Linked DNA regions of Homo sapiens. The protein of the gene in region 2 purifies or fractionates together with the protein of the main gene of each other region. This does not show direct contact. Each region holds a gene or a part of one and is shown on either strand. Other genes may lie near its edges.

Evidence for each region.
Region 1: the proteins of TMEM98 (region 2) and PTPRU purify together in Homo sapiens (co-immunoprecipitation; 2 studies listed by BioGRID and IntAct, with this or other methods). This does not show direct contact.
Region 3: the proteins of TMEM98 (region 2) and ERGIC2 purify together in Homo sapiens (co-immunoprecipitation; 2 studies listed by BioGRID and IntAct, with this or other methods). This does not show direct contact.

Annotation. Positions count from the first base shown.
Region 1 is NC_000001.11:29,239,508-29,246,647, forward strand, and holds part of PTPRU (receptor-type tyrosine-protein phosphatase U isoform 1 precursor), read left to right. Parts: intron 1-7,140.
Region 2 is NC_000017.11:32,923,445-32,931,268, forward strand, and holds the start of TMEM98 (transmembrane protein 98), read left to right. Parts: upstream 1-4,708; 5' UTR 4,709-4,793; intron 4,794-7,455; exon of another isoform or gene 7,456-7,527; intron 7,528-7,824. UniProt on the Homo sapiens protein: Functions as a negative regulator of MYRF in oligodendrocyte differentiation and myelination. Interacts with the C-terminal of MYRF inhibiting MYRF self-cleavage and N-fragment nuclear translocation.
Region 3 is NC_000012.12:29,364,109-29,371,248, forward strand, and holds part of ERGIC2 (endoplasmic reticulum-Golgi intermediate compartment protein 2), read right to left. Parts: intron 6,115-7,140; coding exon 6,006-6,114; intron 4,180-6,005; coding exon 4,133-4,179; intron 2,840-4,132; coding exon 2,769-2,839; intron 1-2,768. UniProt on the Homo sapiens protein: Possible role in transport between endoplasmic reticulum and Golgi.

The DNA.
Region 1 (7,140 bases), on a different chromosome or scaffold from region 2:
AGCTCCTGGACAGCCTGCTGCCCAGCTCTGGTGTCAGAAAAAACCTAGGGCAAGCATCGTGCTTGATGGAGACAGGCCACCATCCTTCCATGATTTTCATCAGCTCAGCTGGGCATATGGGGTGGCCTTTCCATGCAGGACTGGGTTGGCCAGAGTTGCAGGGGGTACCTTGTGCTCCTCCTTCCTCCCCCTCCCCCCTTTTCCTAGTTGCCCTCCTGCATCCTGGAACGTCCTGTCTGCCCTCTCAGAGACTCTTTCATCTGTCTCCTTCTGTCCGTCCTCAGCTATCTTTCACCTGCAGGAAGACTCCAGCCTCCTCCTTCCCTCTTTCCCTCATGGTGCCAGGGATCTTTGTAAAGTACATTTTAACTCAAAGGGTTTAAAACCCTTTGAAGGCTCCCCATTGCCTTCAGGGTGAAGTCCTTATCCCTTGGCCCTGTTGCTGGCTCTAGCTCCTGCCTGCCTGTCCAGCTGCATCTTGTTTTGTGTCACTGCCCCTTGCATCCTATGATCTGGCCAGCCTGACCTTCTTACCAAAGACCCAAATGCCCACAGCCTGCTGTCTCCTCTCTGGGCCTTTGGGCAAGCCGTGCTTTCTCTGCAGAACTTTCTAACTCCAGCTTTTTGCTGGTGAACTCCTGCAACTTGATGGGCTCTCAGCTGTAAGCATCATCCAGTCCCTGAAGCCTTCCTCGGTGATGCCCTGTCCTAGCCTAGGAAGTCGGGGGGTGGGGGTCAATTGGATTTTTACATAGCATTGTAATTATTGTAATTACAGTTTATTAGTGCTGTCTCCCTTACCAGACTGAGAGCTGAGGACAGAGACTGGGTTTTTAGTTTACTTCTGAATCTTAGTGCCAGGTACAAGGCCTGGCCCACCGGGTCTGAATAAATATATATGGCCTGAAAGAATAAAGTTTAAGGGGGCCAGGTTCAGAGGTGGAGATGCCAGATGGGGGTGCACTGATTCCACTGAAGGTAGAGATTGAAGAACCAGGTTTCCCTCCAGGAATCTGGAAAATTCCTGGAGGGTGGGGGATGGTGTTATGTTGTGAAAAGGCCATGTTGAGAGTGTCATCTGGGAGCTTTGAGTTGGGGAGGTTGAGTCCCTGGCAAGAGACTGAAGGGAACGGGCCTCCTGCCTGCCAGCCCCTCCCCCAGGCTCTGGCCCCACCCCTAGCAGCTGGCAGGGCCCTTCCAGCCCCCAGTCTCAGGCTTTTGTGATGGGGCCTGGCAGTTGGTGAGACGTTGAGTCTCAACGGTCTGTGTGAGTGGCTGGGGAGGAGGGAGGGAGCCCGCAGGGCCCTGTGTTAGGAGAGGGAGGGAAGCTTCCTGGAAGACCCTCCCTTAGTCCTCAGTCCTAGATCCTAGGGTGGGCGGGTGGGGTCACAGCCTCTGTTCTCACCGCTTGTGCACCGGAGGGAAGGGAGGAGAACTGCATCCCGTGGTGGCCCTGGCAGATGGGGTTGGGGAGGCTGGCTGAGGTGTGTGCAGATGTGACTCTAGCATCTGGGCAGTCAGAGTGGGGGGTGTGTAGGGATTGTAACTAGGGGCATGGACACATGTGACCTGTTAGGGTGTCTAGCCATCTGGTTATCGTGTGGTGTGGCAGGATCTGAGTTTGGAGTAGGGAGGTAACCAGCTGCTTTGACCCCTGGGGAGCCTGGTGCTAAGGGTGTCTGGCTATCCAAGTATCACATTCCTGGAGTTGGGTGCAGAGCTATTTGGATGGGTGGTGTCTCGCTATCTAGGTGTGGACAACCCAGTACCAGCATGTGGGAGGATCAGGGTGTGCAGACAGAGGCTATCCCAGCATCCCTGGGGCTGGAGGTGGGTGTATCCATGTGTCTGGGAGTCCTCAGGTTAGTGGGTATTTATAAGTGGGGAGTGTCTCTGTGTTGTGTCCAGGTATGGGGCTGGCCAGGTGCCTGAGTGTCTGGTTGTAGGGGTCCCCAAGTGTCCGGGTATCTGAGGGTGGGGGTATCTGTGTATGAAACAACAGGGACCCAGTCATTGAAGTATCCAGTTGTTAGTGAGTCTGGGTGTGGGGTGCCATGTGTCTATTTTTTTTTTTTCTTCTTCTTCTTCTTCTTCTTCTTTTTTTTGAGATGGAGTCTCACTCTGTCACCCAGGCTGGAGTGCAGTGGCGTGATCTTGGCTCATTGCAACCTCCGCCTCCCGGGTTCAAGTGATTCTCCTGCCTCAGCCTCCTAAGTAGCTGGGATTACAGGCGCACGCCACCATGCCTGGCTAATTTTTGTATTTTTAGTAGAGACTGGGTTTCGTCATGTTGGTCAGGCTGGTCTTGAACTCCTGACATTGTGATCTGCCTGCCTTGGCCTTCCAAAGTGCTGAGATTACAGGCGTGAACCACAGCGCACGGCCTTTTCTTCTTTTTTATTCAGATGGAGTCTCGCTTTGTCACCCAGGCTGGAGTGCAATGGCATGATCTCGGCTCACTGCAACCTTTGCCTCCTGGGTTCAAGCGATTCTCCTGCCTCAGCCTCCCGAATAGCTGGGATTACAGGCACCCGCCACCATGCCTGGCTAATTTTTGTATTTTTAGTAGAGATGGGGTTTCACCATGTTGGCCAGGCTGGTCTTGAACTCCTGACCTCAGGTGATCCACCTGCTTCGGCCTCCCAAAGTGTTGGGATTACAGGTGTGAGCCACTGTGCCTGGCCTCATGTGTCTATTTGTATGTTTAGATGTGGAGGTGCCCTTGTGACCTATGGTGGTGTCCATGTATCCAGGATGTGTCCACAAGGGGTGTGGACGTGTTGGGTGGGAATGTCCTGGTGGCTGTACCCAACTCAACCTCTGGTAGCCCCTTCCCTGGGACTTGCCTCCTGATCGCTCTTCAGACTCCAAAGCCAGAAGCCTTGGAAGGGGCCCCGATAGTTCTGTTTTTCAACGGTCAGCCTAGAGCTGTGTTATCTAATAGAACCTTCTGTGGTGATGGAAATTGTCCTCTACCTGCATTCTCCAATACGGTGGCTCCTGAGTCATGTATGGGTATTACATTTAAATTAATTAAAATAAAAATTCAATCCCTCAGTTGCACTAGTCAGATTTCAAGTCCTCAAGAGTCATATGTTGCTAGTGGCTCTCATTGTACTGGTTAATGCAGGCAGAGAACATTTCCATCCTCTCAGAAAGTTCTGCAGACAGCACTGGTCTAGAGGCATGAGGCGGCCTGCAGCACCTTCAGTGAGTCCTGGGCATCTCTGGGAGGGGAATTGGTCTGGATGGACCATGACTCAGTGGCTCTTGACAAAAGGTTTTGTTCAATCCAGGCCCCTTCTCTGCAGCCTTATTAGATCTTGCCTGGACTATTGCAGTAGCCTGGTAGCCTTCTTGGCCTCTACTCTGCCTGCCATCACGCTCTCGGTTTCTTTTTTTTTTTTTGAGATGGAGTCTCACTCTGTCACCCAGGCTGGAGTGCAGGGGCACCATCTTGGCTCACTGCAACCTCTGCCTCCTGGGTTCAAGCAATTCTTCAGCCTCAGCCTCCCAAGTAGCTGGGACTACAGGCGCGTGCCACCACGCTCGGCTAATTTTTTGTATTTTTAATAAAGACGGGGTTTCACTGTGTTAGCCAGGATGGTCTCCATCTCCTGACCTCATGACCTGCCTGACTCGGCCTCCCAAAGTACTGGGATTAGAGGCATGAGCCCCCGGGCCCGGCCCAGGCTTTTGGTTTCTAATGCTTCCACCACCCTGTGGCTGGAATAAGCTTCTAAGGCAGACATAGGATGCTGCCACTCCTTTGTCCCAAGCTGAAGGCTCCCCAGAACTCAGGGGACAAAACCCAAACCCTAGCATAGCACATGAGGCCCTGCATGACCAGCCCTTTCTTTCTGAAGCAGCTTCACATGATGCCTTTCTTCCCTGATCCCACTCCTGCCTATCCGCTGTCTGCTCCAAATCACCAGGCAAATTGCTGATCCAGGAGCCTGCCATGCCAGTTCACACCTCTCTACCTTTGCACACACTGTGCCCCTCCCTACTTCTCACCTCGTGGTGGGGGTGGGGGATCTACCTACTTGTTCAGCCTTCACAGTTCAGCTCCATTGTCACTGATGCAGCGAAGCCTTCCCAGCCCTCTCCCGGTGCAGTTGGTGAAATTTCTCCCATAGTGGACGTCTGACAATGTGCTGCGGTTTTCCATCTCCTTTTTCCACTAGGCTGGGAGCCCCCAGGGGCTGAGCTGTGTCTTTGTCATCTGTGGTCCCCAGGGCCTATACGTGGGAGATGCCCACTAAGTGGCTGCATCTCGATGCCTCTGGGTGCACAGGGAAGGCTTGGAGGGGTGAATGCAGGAGCTGGGGTTCTGCAGCACAGTCATGGGTGGGCTGGCTATGCCTCCTCCTCTGGCTCTGGGTTGGGGGCTGCCATTTCCTGCAGAATGACTGTGGGAGGACCCCTGAGGGGGACAGCTCAGAAGATGCTGCTTCCAGATGACGCAGGAGGTCTTGGGCAGATTCCCAAGATGCAAACCACAAGACCTTGTGATGACTCAGAAGGGACAAGGAGAAAGGGGGCTTGGAGGGCCGCTGAGGCTTGGGAGTTTGAGGGCAGAAGCTGGGGAGAAAGATTGAGATGGGGCTGTTAGGAAGGGGAGATGCTGAGGATATTTGACAGGGCAAGATTAAAGCTAGGGGTGGGGTGACAGCTCAGCCCCCGGGGGCTCCCAGACTAGTGGAAAAAGGAGACGGAAAACCGCAGCACACTGTCAGATGTCCACTGTGGTGGGTGACAGCTGAGGCCTGGGGGACCACTGGCGGATAGAAGATAGCTGGTGGGAAAGATATACCTGGGGGATGGGACAGCTGACAGTGAAGGGACAGGCGGTATTGGGGGAACAACTGAGGGTTGGGGGACAGGTGGATGATAGAACAAGGAGATGTGGGTGATAAGATAAGAGGTGGAGATAAGAGGTGACAACTGGGAGCTATCAGAAACCTAGTGGATAGGACAGGTGAGTCTCAGCTGAGAGTGGGAAATACATTGCTTAGAATGTGTATGTATGTGTGTTTACAGGAGCGTGCATGTGGACTTGTGGCTGGGCATGCCTGTCAATATGTGTTTGTCTAGCGTGTGGTGGTTAAGAGCATGGGTTCAGGGCCCAGACCATCTGGGTTCTAATCCTAAGCCCACCACTTCTAGCTGTGTGATACTTTGGTAAGTTACTGACCTCTCTGGGCCCTTAGAGTTCTCATTTGTGGAATGGGGATAATAATAGGACACACTGCATGCGTTTGTCATGAGGATATGTTTTATGGTTATGATTATGTAGGTTAGAACAGGTCCTGCACATAGTAAGCACTGTGTAAGTGATCACTGTTATGATGTGTGTATTTGCATGCGTGCGGTCATCCTGTGTGCCCAGAAAAGTTTGTTCTTGGTTTCTGATGAAGTCCAGGCCTGGGAGGGAGTAATAGTGGTGGGGACGGGGGTGGTGGTTGGGGAGTGCCTAGCCAGGTTGATTGAGTCTGGCTCTTCTCTGACATCCTAACCTCTTGTTCATCCTACTTCCTGCTCACCCTGTCCCAGGGCCTTATCCAATAATAGGTCTTTCTCTCTATCTCTCCTCTGTCCTGCCCTGGGCTGGGGGCCAGGGGCTGTACTTTAATTGTCTGAGAGCTTTACCAGCAGAATTTGAATTCATTGTTTTCCTGCCAGCATGCTGGGATTCTGCTCAGTTATAATACCTGGACAATGTGCTCGATTCTAGATGGCCTATCCTGTGGGTGGCAGTGGCTTCAGCCTTTGCCCTTGGAGAGTCACTGGGGTGGAAGATGTTGGAGGGAGGGAGACAAGCCAGATGAGATTTCGGCCCCCAACTTGTGGGGTGAGCCAGCGTGGCCGGGCAGAGCTGTAGGTAGAGAGTTTTCCAGGGATCTGAGCTCCCCTCTCCTCCAGTGCATCACAGGGAGGCATCATGACCCTCCCAGCAACACTGTTGCAGCGTGCCAGGCTCTGGACTGCTCTGGATGTGCACTGTCTGGGATTCCTGGGTCCAGCCTCCTTGCACAGCCCTGTGTCTCAGCCCTCTACTTCACTGGGATTGCTGCATTGCATTGAGGGTGTGCGTTCTCCTGAGTTTCTGCATGCTCTGCCTCTGCATTGTCCCATTGGACCGTGCCTCCATCCTGCCATGATCCTGCCATGGTCCTGCCATGTGTGTGTCTTTGCTGCTCTCTTGTATACTGTGTCACTCTGCTGGATGTCAGTGTTGCATTGGGAAGGTGAATTCTCCTGGGTTTCTGGGCGGAGCTGCTCACACTGCACCACTGTCTGAGATCAACACATGGTTTTCTGTGGCCACATTGCATGTTTGTGTCATAGAGCATTTATATTCTGCACCCCATTGCCTCACCAGGCAGTCTACATTGCATTGGGCACATGGACTCTTTTGGGGTTTGGGCATAGCTCCTCGCATTGCAGCACTGCACCGTGCCAACAGATGGCATGCTACCACAACATTGCATCTTGGCATCACACAGCATCTCTGTACTGCACTGCACTATTGCATGGACGTCAGTATTGCATCAGGACTGTGAACTTTTCCTGAGTTTCTGGGCATGGCCCCTCTGCATTCCACAGTTGCATTGTACCAACAGTGCACTTTGCCCCATATAGCACTTCTGTGCATGTGCACTGCTTTGCTGCACTGGATATGTGCCTCATGGCCCAGCCCTTGCACTGCACCACTGCTGCTGAAACGCTGCCCCTATGGTGTCCTGGCCTTTCACGCTCCTACCACCATGGTATCTGTAGGCTGGCGTCCTTTTCCAGGTTTTTGTTGTCAGCCCTACGTGAACAACATCTTTGCATTGAGTGTCCTCACTGCCCCACGTTGCACATGACTCAGGGAGTCTATATCTATAGTACAGCTTGGGACCACTTTCTTGGGCTTCAGGACTGGCTTAGGTTTGCAAAGGCAGCACCACTGCACAGTATCTGACATTGCATTCGTGCACTGCACAGGATTACTGCCCAGGGCCTCTACCCTGCAACGAACCTGTTCACTGTTGGGTTGTGTGCACTCTACCGGATTGCGGGACCCAGAGCCCTTGCGTTGAATCCACTGGTTCCACACAGCATCTATTTTTTTTTTTTTAAGATGGAATCTCA
Region 2 (7,824 bases):
CTCGGCTCTTTGGGAGGCCAAGGCAGGCGGCTGGGAGGTGGTTGTAGCGAGCCGAGATCACGCCGCTGCACTCCAGCCTGGGCACCATTGAGCACTGAGTGAACGAGACTCCATCTGCAATCCCGGCACCTCGGGAGGCCGAGGCTGGCGGATCACTCGCGGTTAGGAGCTGGAGACCAGCCCGGCCAACAGAGCGAAACCCCGTCTCCACCAAAAAAAAACGAAAACCAGTCAGGCGTGGCGGCGCGCGCCTGCAATCGCAGGCACTCGGCAGGCTGAGGCAGGAGAATCAGGCAGGGAGGTTGCAGTGAGCCGAGATGGCAGCAGTACCGTCCAGCTTTGGCTCGGCATCAGAGGGAGACCGTGGAGGGAGAGGGAGGGGGAGGGGGAGGGGGAGGGGGAGAGACCAAATTTCTTTGTATAAAAGTGTTAACCCAAGTGGAACAAAAATTAGTTGAGTACCAAGAAAATACTTTGCCAGATTTGCATGCTAAATCAGCGGATACTAAAATTGTTTAGATATACAATTTGAATGAACTCCATGGTCTAAGTCAAATTACCTATGATAACCCATCAGTTGTCAGTGCTATACAGCTAAACTGGAGAAACAACTGGTATTCAAGATGACGTAAGTCCGATGTTAAGCATGGACTCATGGAGAACCAGGACAGCAGCCTTGCCCTTCCTGAGTCCTTAAAGCTTTTGTTATTCAAGGTTATGCACTCCATGACTCATCATGGAAAAGATAAAATAATCCAAATTAAATATATATTGGTGTGCTGACTTATACATTGCTAAAGTAGTTTATAACCAATGTTTGGTTTGTCAAATCCATATTCCTGGGAAGACAATCAAATCTTCAAGTACATTTGGCTACCTCATGGGCCATTTAAACATTTCAATTGCCATTTTCAATGCATGTTTCTGGTTGTAAAAAAGCTTTCCTATGCAAGAGGGCTGATGTTATAACAGTAGATTATTATGCTACAGTGTATTTTCACCAGGTAAAGAAAGCTTTTTATGGGTCACTGAGGACAATCAACCCCTTCACAATCTAGAACCCAAAGATTGGGTCTTCTGAGAATATCTACTGTAAAGGCTATAGTTACACAACAGATTTTAAATTCTTTTGTGAAGGTTACGATAGAATCGGCTGAACAGAGAAGTATCTGTGCAGCTGCTGGCACTTGTGGCTTATGGAGAAATACATCAAATGAAGATTATAGAGATTTAGTTGTAGGGGATTAACGAAGAGATTTCTTAGTTAAGTGAGTAGATTCTTTAGCACATTCTTTGATTTAATTTTAGGTGGTTTGGTTTATGGGGATCCTTGGTATGAAGTATGCTCCAAACTCTTAGTATTATCCTCCCAGTAGTCATAATAATAGTCTCCCTGGTGCGCTGTATTATCTCAAAGGCTTTAAATGCTTGCATTCAGCCATCTCTAGAATGTCAAATGGTCTCTTTTCAAGTGGAATGACAAGAGCTGAAAGAAGTGCATGACCAGGAGGATACCATAACCTATGAATGATGTGGTGAGACTGGAAACCCAAAATGATGGCAAGTGAGTGTGGTGCTAAGGCCTTAAATTTTGGTCACACTCTCACCCAAGTGAGAACCTGACCAAAAAGGGAGAATTTTTTTAACAAAATTATGAGAGGCCAGTGTTTTGGACTGACATCATGTGCTAGGCCCCAGCAAACCAAACAAACCAAAACACATAGATCCTAAAACAGACCAGGTTTTGTTTTTCTCCTGCAAACAGGATGTTCCACCATAAGGAGGTACCCTCTACTCAGTCCTTGTTCCCACTGTACAAAACTCACTGTTGTTTTACTGTTTCCCAGTGGGTTTCAAGACCAAATAAGTTCATTTATGATGGTGGTAGTGACATGAATGACTAAAGGTTTGGTCAATCTCTCAAAATTGAGAAAATGACCAAAAGGGGGAAATTGTTAAAGCAAATTAAATATAGCCTGAGAAGGACTCCGTATTTCTATATTGGAGTCTCTGTGGATGAACGGTAACCTAACTTAGGAATATGTGCCTGTAAAAATAGCTGAGTCTTGGCCAATCCCAGCAACCCCAAATCAGGCCAGGAGATAAGGTACTTAATAAAACGTGGAAGTGCTCTGGATAATAGTGGCCATTTTTTTATTGCCTTCTTCCAAACTTATGGAATCACTTCCTTTGTAGTAATTAGCAGAATGTTTCAATTCATCTCCATAATGAACATTCCTGACAGCATAAGTATCCACCCCCTGAAGTTCCTGTTAAATCTTTTAACCATATTCATTTCCTTTCACATAGAGACCATCAAGCTTCAGATGATCATGTGACAAAGTTTCCAGTCAGTTCCAAGTGAAGACACCACCCCTGGCCATCAGGATGCCACACTGTCTCCACTAGACAGAGTAGGGCAAGAGTTCCATGATCTCCAGTAGGTAGGAACTACGCCCCAAGTTGGCATAAAGCAGTTACAGTTCCTCTGCATCCCATAAAGATTTATGGGGGTCATGTCTCTCAGGAGAGAGATGAGGCAGGAGAATAGGGTCTGGAGGCAGGAAACCTAAGGGTTCACCTGACTTCCTAGAACTAAATCAAAAGGAAAACCCCAACTTTCCGCACCTAAGTAACAAACGGACCAGAGACTACTCCCTTTGCAACCCCCACTCCCCACTTTCTGCTTGGCAGATGGAAAATCTTTTGAAAGTACCTCTGATTGCCTTTCCGCAACCAATCCTGCGTTTGCATAGAAGTGTAACTTTGTAACTTCACTTCAGCCTCTGATTGGTTGTGGAAAGCAACCAGTCAGACTGATTGCGGCCAAATATTCTTTTGCATAGGAGTGTAACTTTGTAACTTCACTTTAGCCTCTGATTGGTTGTGGAAAGTAACCGATCAGACTGATTGCGGGCCAAATCTTCTTTTGCATAGGAGTGCAACCTTTGTAACTTCACTTCAGCCTCTGATTGGTTGCTTTCCACAACCAATCAGACTAATTGTGGCACCACTTCATTTACATGGGGTGAACGCCAAGTGGCCAATGGGAAACCTCTAGGAGGTATTTGGACCCCAGAAGATTCTACAGCAGGGGCTCTTGAGCCCATATGCAGGGGCCTGCTCCCACCTTGTGGAATGCACTTTTGTTTTCAATAAATCTCTGCTTTTGTTGCTTCATTCTTTCTTTACTTGCTTTGCTTGTGCCTTTTGTCTAATTCTTTGTTCAAAATGACAAGAACAGGCCGGGTGCGGTGGCTCATGCCTATAATCCCAGCACTTTGGGAAGCTGAGGTGGGTGGATCACCTGAGGTCAGGAGTTCCAGACCAGCCCGGCCAACGTGGCGAAACCCCGTCTCTACTAAAAATAACAAAAAAAATTAGTGGGACGTGGTGGCGCACACCTGTAATCCCAGCTACTTGGGGGGCTGAGGCAGGAGAATCGCTTGAACCCAGGAGGCAGAGGTTGCAGTGAGCTGAGATCGTGCCATTGCACTCCAGCCTGGGCAACAGAGCCAGACTCTGTTTCAAAAAATAAATAAATAAATAAATAAATAAATAAATAAAGGCAAGAACCTGGACACCCTCCACCCGTAAACAGCCAAGACTGTGCCACAGCACTCCAGCCTGGGCGACTGACTGAGACTCTGTCTCAAAAAAATTAAAATAAAACAACAAAAGTATGAACCAAAAAAACCACCTCTGTGGGCTGGATGTGGCCTTGGGGGTACCAGTTTGCAGACCCTGTGTCAAGCGGCCTAGGACCCAATCTGTATCCTTTGTTAACTGTCACCGATACTGACCTCAGACCTGGACCACTGGGATCCTGCCCTGAACCCCGTGCTTTAGTTGGCCCACTCCAGCTGGAGCGTATGTTCCCTTCTAGATCATGCTCCTGGTACCCTGGACTCCGGAAATCCCTGTGTAAACAGCCCTGAGCCTGCTTCCAAGGTCTGACTTCCATCCACCCAGGGCAGCCTGCCCTGCCTGGCCTGAGTATCGTTAGAATGAAGGATGGCAGGGTAGGGGGTGTGTGTTTGCCTGAACCAGTAGACCCCCTTCAGTATGTATGGGATGGAGTCGTGTGGGAATAGAAGCAGCAAGACTACTAGCAAGGGCTCTGCATTTGTACTCTTGCCCCTGGCTAGGCAGTCGCCAGGGGTGGGCCTGCTTCTCACTGACCCGTGGGTCAGGCTGTAAATAAGAGCGACCCTCGATTCACTCTTTACCCTGGGCCAGGCAGTCCGATGCATCCTGCATCCCATCATTCCTAATACCAACTCTGAGGATGCTGACAAGCAGCAGCCCCGTTTTACAGACCGAGGCACAAAGGCTGAACTAAGTTGTCCATAGCTAGTGAGTGGCAGAGGCAGGGTTTCAATGGGACAGTCCGTGGCGGAGCACACTGGCTCCGCCGCCAGCCCCCCTGCGGTACCCATCCGCGCTCGCCGCCTGGGACCGCCAGCCCGGGGCGGGGCGCAGGCAGGGACCCTCCGCTCCCCTCTCCGTCTGCCGCCCGGACGGGCCACCGCGGGGGCGCGAGGAAGGGGTGTTGGGTCGCCAGGGCCCGCCTCCCAGCTGCCCCGGCCGCCGGGGGGCCTGGCGGTGACGGCGGCGCCTGGCGGCGGGGATTTGGCGCGGGCCGGGGGCCGGGGGCCGGGGCGCGGGGGCGCGAGGCTGGATTCCTAGGGCCGCGGCGCTTCCCGGCATGCTCCGCTGCAGGCCCGCGCCCGCGCCCGGACTTTGCCATCGGCGGGGCAGTCGCGGGATGCGCCCGGGAGCCACAGCCTGAGGTGGGTGAGCCCCGCCGGGCCGGGCGGGCCGCGGCGAGTCGGGGAAGGGGACGCGGGGGCGCGGGGCCTGGCCCGGCTGCCGGGGAGAGGGGAGGCGGGTGCCGCAGCTTTGTTCTTGCCGCGGGGCCGCGCGCCCGAAGTTGGGGAAAGGAGTAGGAGCCGCGCCCCGGAGCGCTCCGGGGCCCGTGCGGCGCGTCCCGGGCGGGCTGGGGGTCCCTCCCTCCCGGGGACAGAGTGGGCGTCCTGGGTGGACGAGCACGGGGAAGCGGGTAGGGTCTTGGGTCTGTTCTGTCCTTGTGGTTCTGGAACCGGAGGGGAAGGGGGAAAGTAAGGGAGAGAGAAAGAGACGGAGAAAAACAGGAAAACTTACTCTTCAGTACGCAGGGAAGAATAGAGAAAGAAAAACACAAAGAAACGCCACGCAGACTGCAGAGAAGGACCACGAACACACGCTCCGAGAAACACACTCAGCTCACACGCACTGAGAAGCACACTTAAGATAAACACTCAGGTCACACACACAAGCACACTAAGAAACATTCAGTTCACACACACTCAGAAACACACGCACTCAGAAGCACACAAGATAAACACTCAGCTCACACACAGAAGCACACTCAGAAACATTCAGTTCACACACACTCAGAAACACACGCACTCAGAGGCACACAAGATAAACACTCAGCTCACACACAGAAGCACACTCAAACATTCAGTTCACACACACTCAGAAACACACTCCGAGAAACAGTTCACACTCGCTCAGAAGCACACTCAGCTCACACACACAAGCACACTCGGAGAAACATTCAGCTCACACACACTCAGAAACATACTCTGAGAAACACAATCAGCTCACACCCACTCAAGCACACTCAAGATAAACAGCTCACACAAGCACATTCAGAAAACACTCAGAAACATAGCTAACACTCAGAAACACACTCTGAGAAACACAGCTCACACACTCAGAAGCACACTCTGAGAAACAGCTCACACACACAGAAACAGAAAAACAGCTCACGCACACTAACACAAACACACACGGAGAAACACACTTAGAAGCACACTCAGCTCACACACACCCAGAGAAACACGATCAGAGAAACACTCAGAACGCACAGGAAGAGAGAGGAAACCAAGTGGGTGGTCTTGGAGGCCTGGGGACCGGGGGAGGGGAAGGAGAGACACTGAGAAGCGGGAGACGGGAGCAGCAGAGGGAAAGATGCCTGGAAAGAGAAACAGAGATAAAGGCAGACATAAGAGGAGGCAGAAAACACAAAGGCCAAAAGGAGGTGGTTAAAAGGACAGTAAAGAGAAACACACACGTAGAGAAACAGAGGCGGACCCTGAGAATTACCCCCCTCCCCCACCTACCTCTCACAAAATCAGCGACACACACAGAAGAGGCAGATGCCAGCCTTCTCCTTCTTGTGGTCCAGTGAGCTCGAGATGGGAGAGCAGCTCTGTGAGCCCTTTGAGAAAGGCTTCCTTGGCACTTTAAGCCAGGCATGTCCCAACCTTGTCTACCTGGCAAACTCCTGCTCATCCTTCAAAACCCAGCTCTAGCCTCACCACTCCTGTGAAAGTGTCAGTTCCCAGAAAGTGTCATGCAAGCACAGTTACTCTCTTTTCTGTGTTCTTCTGCAGGAAGCACAGGCACATGGAGTTGAAGTGGTTTGTCACCTGTCTGCCTCTCCCACCAACTCCTTAAGATCAGGGTCTCTGTCCTATCTATCTCCAATCTCCAGTGCATGATGCATAGTAGATGATCAATAAATACTTAGTGAATGGTGACCGAGAGCGTTTGGACCCTCCGAGACATGGAGGATAGAATTAAGTGCAAATAGAGGAAAAGCACCCTCCTGGTATTCTAAGGACTCCTAAGTCAGAGTGTCTTTTTTTCACGTGGGGAAATTAAAGCCCAGAGAGGGGAGAATGCTTGCACAAAGAGAGACAAGCAGGAGGCCTACAATGAAATAACAGTGAATATGTACTTCTGTGAGATGCCCTTGTTCTTCTGGCTTATGAGTTTAAAATAGGTGTGAAAGACCCCGTTCTTCAGTTCCTCTCTCCAGAGGCAGCTACTGTTATCAAGTTACATTTTATGTGTGTTTGTGCCTATCGATGTGTTCATACTAAAAAAATTCTGTGCACTAGTATATACAAATGCACGGACTTCTTTCATTCTTCTTTTGTACACAAATAAAAGAATTCTATGAGAAAAAGAAATAGATGTGAAACAGTCTCCTGAGTGAAAACTGGCAAGAGGCAATGGACACTTTAATGCCAGTTCTAAGTTTCCAACACTGAAACTGGCAATTAGAACTCTTTCCAGAACCTTTACAGTCTTCTTTCTTCCTTAGAAAGGAAAAGTAGAGTGAATGTCCATCTCAGTGTAAGTGGATGGCTTTCCATCTCCTGACTGCATATTGGAAAAATTCTGTAACCTCCCTGAACCTCAGTTTCCTCAACTGTAAAATGGGATTACTAATATGTCCACTTCATAAGATTGTTGTTGGAAAAGTTAACAAAGAACCTGGTGCAGAGTAGATCCTCAGTAAATACAGTTTCATCTTTCCTCTCTTTAATGGGTGTTCTTTTGTGCATGTTTTTATGGCTGCGAAAACAACTGCTAGTTAAAATGTTTCCTTTTGTCTAGGGTTTAAAAAGCTATTTTAAGGCCGGGCTCGGTGTCTCACGCGTGTAATCCCAGCACTTTGGGAGGCCCGAGGTGGGTGCATTACTTGAGGTCAGGAGTTCAAGACCAGCCTGGCCAACATGGTGAAACCCCGTCTCTACTAAAAATACAAAAAATTAGCCGGGTGTGGTGTCAGGCACCTGTAATCCTAGCTACTTGGGAGGCTGAGGCAGGAGAATCGCTTGAACCCAGGAGGCAGAGGTTGCAGTGAGCTGAGATCGTGCCATTGCACTCCAGCCTGGGTGACAGAGCTAGACTCCATCTTAAAAAAACAAACAAACACAAACAAACAAACAAAAAATTTTAGTCCAACTGGGGAGCAAATTCTTC
Region 3 (7,140 bases), on a different chromosome or scaffold from region 2:
TCATAGGATAGAAAAACCCATGTGAAAGGGATTTTCCCAGTTCAGAGCAACAGAGAAAATGGGTAATAAAAGATAATAGCAGAAGATACAGGCAGTCATGCTAGAATCCATAAAACATACCTACACATTCTTGCTGTAAAATAAATCTCAAAAAGTCCCCCCTCAACAGAATGGAGAATCCAGAAATCAAGCTGCACACCTGCAGCCATTTGATCTTTGACAAAATCAACAAAAATAAGCAATGGAGAAAGGACTCTCTATTCAATAAATGGTGCTGGGAGAGCTGGCTAGCCATATGCAGAAGAATGAAACTGGGCCCAGATCTTTCACCATATACAAAAATTAACTCAAGATGGGTAAAGATTTAAATGACCTTAAACTATAAGAATCCTAGAAGAAAACCTAGAAAACACCATTGTGGGCATCACCCTTGGGAAAGAATTTATGACTATGTCCCCACAAGCAATTGCAACAAAAACAAAAATTGAAAAGTGGGAGCTAATTAAACTAAAGAGCTTCTGCACAGAAAACAAAAACAAAAACTACCAACAGAGTAAACAGACAACCTACAGAATGTGAGAAAATATTCACAAACTATGCATCTGATAAAGGTCTAATATCCAGAATCTATAAGGAATTTAAATAAATTGAACATGTAAAAAACAACCCCATTAAAAAGTCGGCAAAGGACATGAACACACACTTCTCAAAAGATATACAAGTGGTCAACAAACATGAAGAAATGCTCCATATCAGTAATCATAAGAGAAATGCAAATCAAAACCACAATGAGAGGCCATCTCACACCAGTCAGAATGGCTATTACTAAAAAGTCAAAAAGAAAAAAAAAAAAAAGATGTTGGAGAGGCTGTGGAGAAAAGGGAACACTTATATGCTGCTGGTAAAAATGGAAATTAGTTCAGCCACTGTGGAAAGCAATTTGGAGAGTTCTCAAAGAACGTAGAGTATTATTTAACCCAGCAATCCCATTACTGGGTATATACTCAAAGGAAAATAAATCATTGTATGCAAAAGACACATGCACTCTGATCTTTATTGCAGCACCATTCACAATAGCGAATACATGGAATCAACCTAGGTACTCATCAGTGGTACATGGGATAAACAAAATGTGGTATACATGCACCAGGGAATACTATGCAGCCATAAAAAAGAAGAAACTTTTATCCTTTGCAGCAACATGAATGCAGCTGGAGGCAATAATCCTAAGCAAATAAATGGCAGGACAGAAAACCATACACCATATGTTCTCATTTATAAGTGGGAGCTAAACGCTGGGTACTCATAGACATAAAAATGGCAACAACAGAAAGTGGGGACTATTAGAGAGGGGAGGGAGGGAGAAGGAAAAGGATTGAAAAACTACTAGTTATTATGCCCAGTACCTGGGTGATGGGATCAATCATAACCTGAAAACCTCAGCATTACACAATATACTCAGGTAACAAACCTTCACATGTACTCCATGAATCTAAACTAAAAGTTGAAAAAACAGTCCCTCTTCAAAATGATAAACAAAAATAAGGTAAGAATGGCAGAAAATTAAAAAAAAAAAAACAAAGTTAAAGTTAAATAAGTATTCTTAAGATAGTATAAAATGTAATACAAATATTAAAATATCTAATAATAATCACTTAGATCAAAATGAGCAGATAATAGTGTAATATGCTGTCATATATGAATCTGTAAGGTAACTAAGCTCATAAAAAATTACTTCAAAATCGATTTTTTGAGTGGGAAAACGAGTCAGAAAGTAGAGTCAGAGTGGCAATAACAAAAGTTACTGTTTCTGTAGAAATTTCTATTTAAAATGTATATGTCAAAAGGCACATATCAAGTTTGTAGCTGTAAACTAAAATTAATTCAATAATCAAAACTGGCCAAGGACTTCATTTTCTTTCCTTTAACCCCATACATTCAGTCACTTCTACTCCCCCTCCTTCACCTTCACTCTTCACTTTGCAAATTTGCTAAAAGAAAGGTTCACAATTGTCAATGATTAAGAAAAGGAACTCAAGAACGCATGCGTAAATTTAAGTACCACCATGCCAACAGAGCAACTTTTAGCTGCTGAGGGCCTCATGCTTATTCTCGAAAGCTTATTTAGGGCTAGTTCTGATCATGACTCGTTATCACTGTATCTGCCACTGAAATGTGACAATATTTTCTGATAAATCTACGATGTTATATTCAACTTGTGCTCTGAAGATAATAAGAAAATGTCAGCATTTCACACGCTGAGGGAAATAGAGGCGTAAAGGAGGAAGGAAGTAGTAATGCCCATGACATTTCTCCTCTTAGAAAGATACTACTTTATTCTTGATTGTAAGAGAAATACAGTTCAAATATTTTAAATACTTAAATTTGGTCATAGTAGAATACAAACAGGACATAAAAGTTTCCAAATTACTAGAGAAAAAGAAAAAAACTCATCACTATAACTAGAAGAAAAGTGAAAAGGAAACTACTGGAAAGTAATAACAAAAATATTAAAAAAGGTTATAAAACAGACTTTAGACACATCCAAAATACATCCAAAATGTTAATAATGGTCACCTCAAGATTTTGGTATATAATATAACTTTTCTGTTTTTCCCCCTAAATTTATTACAAAGAATATGGATTACTTTTGAAATAAAAGAATTATACTAAAAACTATTTCAGACAAAACTAAAAGCAACTATCTGTCTTCAAGCGTACGATTCCTCAACCCGTGTATTTCAAAAAACCATGTGAATCAAACTTACTGGTTCATAAACTAAACCATCTGCAGATGCAACCATTGTTTCTGCTAAATCCAATACATCCGCTCCAACATCTGCATAGAAAAAAGAATTAGAAGTTTTACATTCTATGCTTGGAGGCAAACCATCCCCAATATAAACAAATTAAGCCAACTAACAGAAAACTCACCAAGCAAAAAAAAAAAAAAAACCTCACCAACTATGTAGAATAATTTCCGATATATTTGTCCAAAAGCTAAAACAGTAGCCTTATATAGCTTAGGTGGAGATTATTCCAAAATGTAATAATGTTTTTTCTTACCCAGTAAAAAACTTCTTACCCAATAAAAAAAAAAAGATAATTCAAGATCTCATTTAAAAAGGATAAGCGTCACTGAATTGAAGAGCTTTGCAAATATCGGCAAGAACCTAATCACAAGTACTAAGTGGCTGCTGAACAAAATATTAATTCCAAGAAATATTTTTAGAGATTAAAAGAAATCGTAAAGCTATGCTACAAATCAACAAATAGGAAATTTTATTCGGAAAAGGCTAAAATTTAACAGTATTTAAACATCCAAAATAAGGCAGAATATCATATATTCAGAATTACCACTAACTACAAGTTTAAAAATAAAGTATTTTTTTATCTCTTAAAACCACCAACATAAGGAAAAACATATTGAAAAGAAAGAGATTCAAGGTCGTTCTGAGATAGAATCTCACAGAAAATAACCTCTAATTAATTGGGTAAAATTATTTCATACTTTTAAAAATGTAAAAATTTTCTCTGAGTTCTTGGTCTGTAATTTTTAAGCAGTAACTCATAAAATATTTTTCATGCAAAAGCATTCTTATTTTTGAAAACAGTATTGATTCAAACATTCACTATCTGGCATATTAGCATTTTTCCACTTCTATTAGTATAACCAAGTGAGTCCAGTGACGAAAAAAGAAAAGGGTAACCTATCACCATTAACTTAAAATAACTGGATCTGTATTTTTAAACGCAAGAGTAAACATAAAAGGTGGTAAACTGAAACAGTGACACAAGGATATGCTTGTGAAACATGGGTATAAAAGCTAGTACTCCAAACAAAAAAAGACAGAAAGGATGTACATAAACTAGAATGCTGATTCACAAACATTTCCTCCAACTTTCTTTTAATTATACTAATGTGAAAGTTTTATCTCTTCTCTTTATGGAAAAGAAACTTGAAGAATATAAGCTGAGGAGTAAAACAATTTGTATTATTAAATAATACCACAGTAAAACTTTAAAATATTATAAAGGAAAAATAAAGTACAACCAGTGATTTTTATTTTTGCTTGGCAATTGTTTGAACCATAACCTACATGTGGATTCAGCAAGTTGAAGGTGTACTTACATTGACACTTCATGGCAACAGTAATATCTATATTAATTCTTAATTTGCTGAAAGACAAAATATTAAACATTAGTACCTACCAATTAATTAGCAAAACATGAGAAATATAAATCAACTGACCTATTAAAAACTTGGATTTCAAGCAGAATAAATTATGTCGATTAGAACTTGAATTGCATTTCTCATGGCCAAAACAAAGGCTCTTTAAATTACAAGTTCTATTTTGCCCTTATTCCAAAAGCCTTTCTGACTTCACAGGTTTTTGAACACAGTATCCTTTAATAATGGCAACTCTATAATCAATAACTCTAAGCAACTCAGAAAAAGTCTTAACCTCTTAATCTCTATTTACATAAACTTTTGATAGAATGTTCTTTTAAGAATGTAAAACTCTCAAAATCAAGAATTAGGAATTGTCTTTCTTCTCTGTTTATCAAACACCATATATTAAGCATGATGCTAGATGTTCTACAAATATTATCTCCTTTATTCTATATCATGGAGCTATAAATGGATGGCTTCACAGATTTTCAAGTAAACCACTGGTGTTCACGGTAGTGTAAATACCTGGCTTAAGATCACATCACCATTAAAGTGGCATACTGGAAACTAGGTCTATGTAACTCAGGATAAATGCAACCAAACTACCAAAAGTAAATCACCTGATGCTTAAAATTTTTCATGGCCTTTCATTTTCAAATGATTAGATCAAAGCAATTTTCGAATACCAGAATGAAGCATTGCGAATAATAGACTGGCTATGATCAAATTCAGTCCTGTGCTTTCTATGATAACTTTTTTCTGTGTAATAATTTTCATCTGATTTAAAATAGGAATTACAGATTTTTAGACCTTCATGAAGTCTTAAAGTCATCTAGAGTTCAAACTGTGTTCCAAATAACCCAGGAGTTTAGGCTCAGGAGATAGGAACCAGGAGTAGGCCAAGTAGACAAACTTCTGCATATCCTCACCATGCTTATGTGGCGAACTATGTAATACATAAGACTTCATTTGGAAAAAAATGAAGTATTGCATTGGTGCTGAAAACAACAACAAATTCTTTGAAAACCAATACTATCCTGAATAGTACATTAGAGATGAAGAAACTGAAGTCCAAAAGAAGTCAGTGGTGTGACCTGCCCAAGGTTACACAGCAATTTACAAATGTTGACTAATTTAATTCTCATAAACCTCTTGAGGAAGATACTATAATTGCTGTCTGTACTTTACAAAAAAGGAAACTGAAGCATATACAGGTGCAGATTTAGTAAATTCCCTAAAATTATGTAAATGGCAAACCTGGATTGTAATTGAAAACTAAATGTGTCTTCCTATTTGGTGCAATCTTAATATTATAAACCTATTATCTTCATTCCATTGAAGAAATCCAAATAATACAAACGAATAGATGTAAAGTGTATAATTAAGGTACTATATTTTCAAAAGTTTAAAAGTAATCTTATTTACATAAAGATTTAGCTTAGGTATAATTTATAGACATCAAGTCATAAGGGTATACAATGTATCCTTAGACAACTTATTTTCCAGCTCACACAGATCAGTGAGGTATTTCAACCAGTTTCAAATATTAAACAATTTCCACAATATACATATCTAAGGAAAAATATTCCCCTAACTTTTTGAAACAAAGCATGCTAAATCAAAGAACCTCAGTTTTAGAATTCAACCACTATTTAAATGATTCTAAAAGGTTTCACTTAATGCATGCAATTAATGAGAATTTTTCAGGACTATTTCTTCAGAACTAAAACAAACCAAATCTAGAAGGTTAGACTTTTTCTTTTTTAAAAGGTATGCTCTTTTTAAAACAATTTGAATCTAAAGGTATTCCAAGAAGAAAAAAAATGATTACCTAGAAAAATCCTTGTCTACTTCGTATTCATACTTCATCCATGTATCTTGATATACTGAGAATTCCATTATGGTTAATAAAGCCATAGTTGTAAATGCTATTAGAGAAACTGGGAAATCCAACAACAAAAGAAAAACAGAATTAAAACAATAAAAAAAGCAAAGAATAGGAAACTAATTTAAGTGAGATTAAATTTTCAAAAGAAAAAGCCTAATAATGTAACTTCCATTTGAATGCATACTATAGAAGGTTTTTATTCAAAATGTTTATTATGCATTTTTTCTAATACAGCTCAAAAGTTAAGGTTTAATATATACAAATATGAACATAAACACTTGCATTACTAAGAAAGCATTTTATTTCTCCAATTTTAAGGGCATCTCTCACTAAGTAGAGTTGACAAAATTTGTATTTCTTATATAAAACAGTGTCACAGATAGGATAAATGATGAAAGTAAGCATGCCTTATAGCACAAATTTGAAAACAGTTGCTTCATTATTAAAAATGCATCCATGTCTATAAATATAATTTGTATATAAATGTATATAAATTGGGCTATAAGCCCAATTTAAAACAAACAAAAAGGTAGCCTAATTTCTTAGATCCTGAGAAACCACAATAATCTGTGTGCCAGAAACTCAAATAACATCTCTAAATAGCTAACAAAACTCTCCTCTACTTGGCAATCTCCTAAATATATCACCTCATTCACAGAACTGAGTAAAAGATCTGACAAAAAGAAAATCTATTATATACTAAAGCAAAATACTTAAAATAGATTTTGCAAGAACTTGCACTATTTTCATTAACAAAACTTAATCACAAGTGGATCAGAAATAGTAAGCAACTTATTACCCATTTTACCAAATAAAATGTCAACCTTAAGTGAAATACATTATTTTACTACCTTTTCATAGGGAAAGAAATTATACTGAATATTGTTATAGTCACACATTTTTCTTATATATTTCATTATTTATTTTACTTAACTGATACTTTTATCTGTACCAGGCACTGGGTCTAAGCATTTTATGAAAATATTAATAGTATAGTAACCCCTAGGAGGTAAATACTAGTATGATCCCTATTTCATGGAAGAAACTAAGACAGATAGATTTGAATAACTTCCTCAAG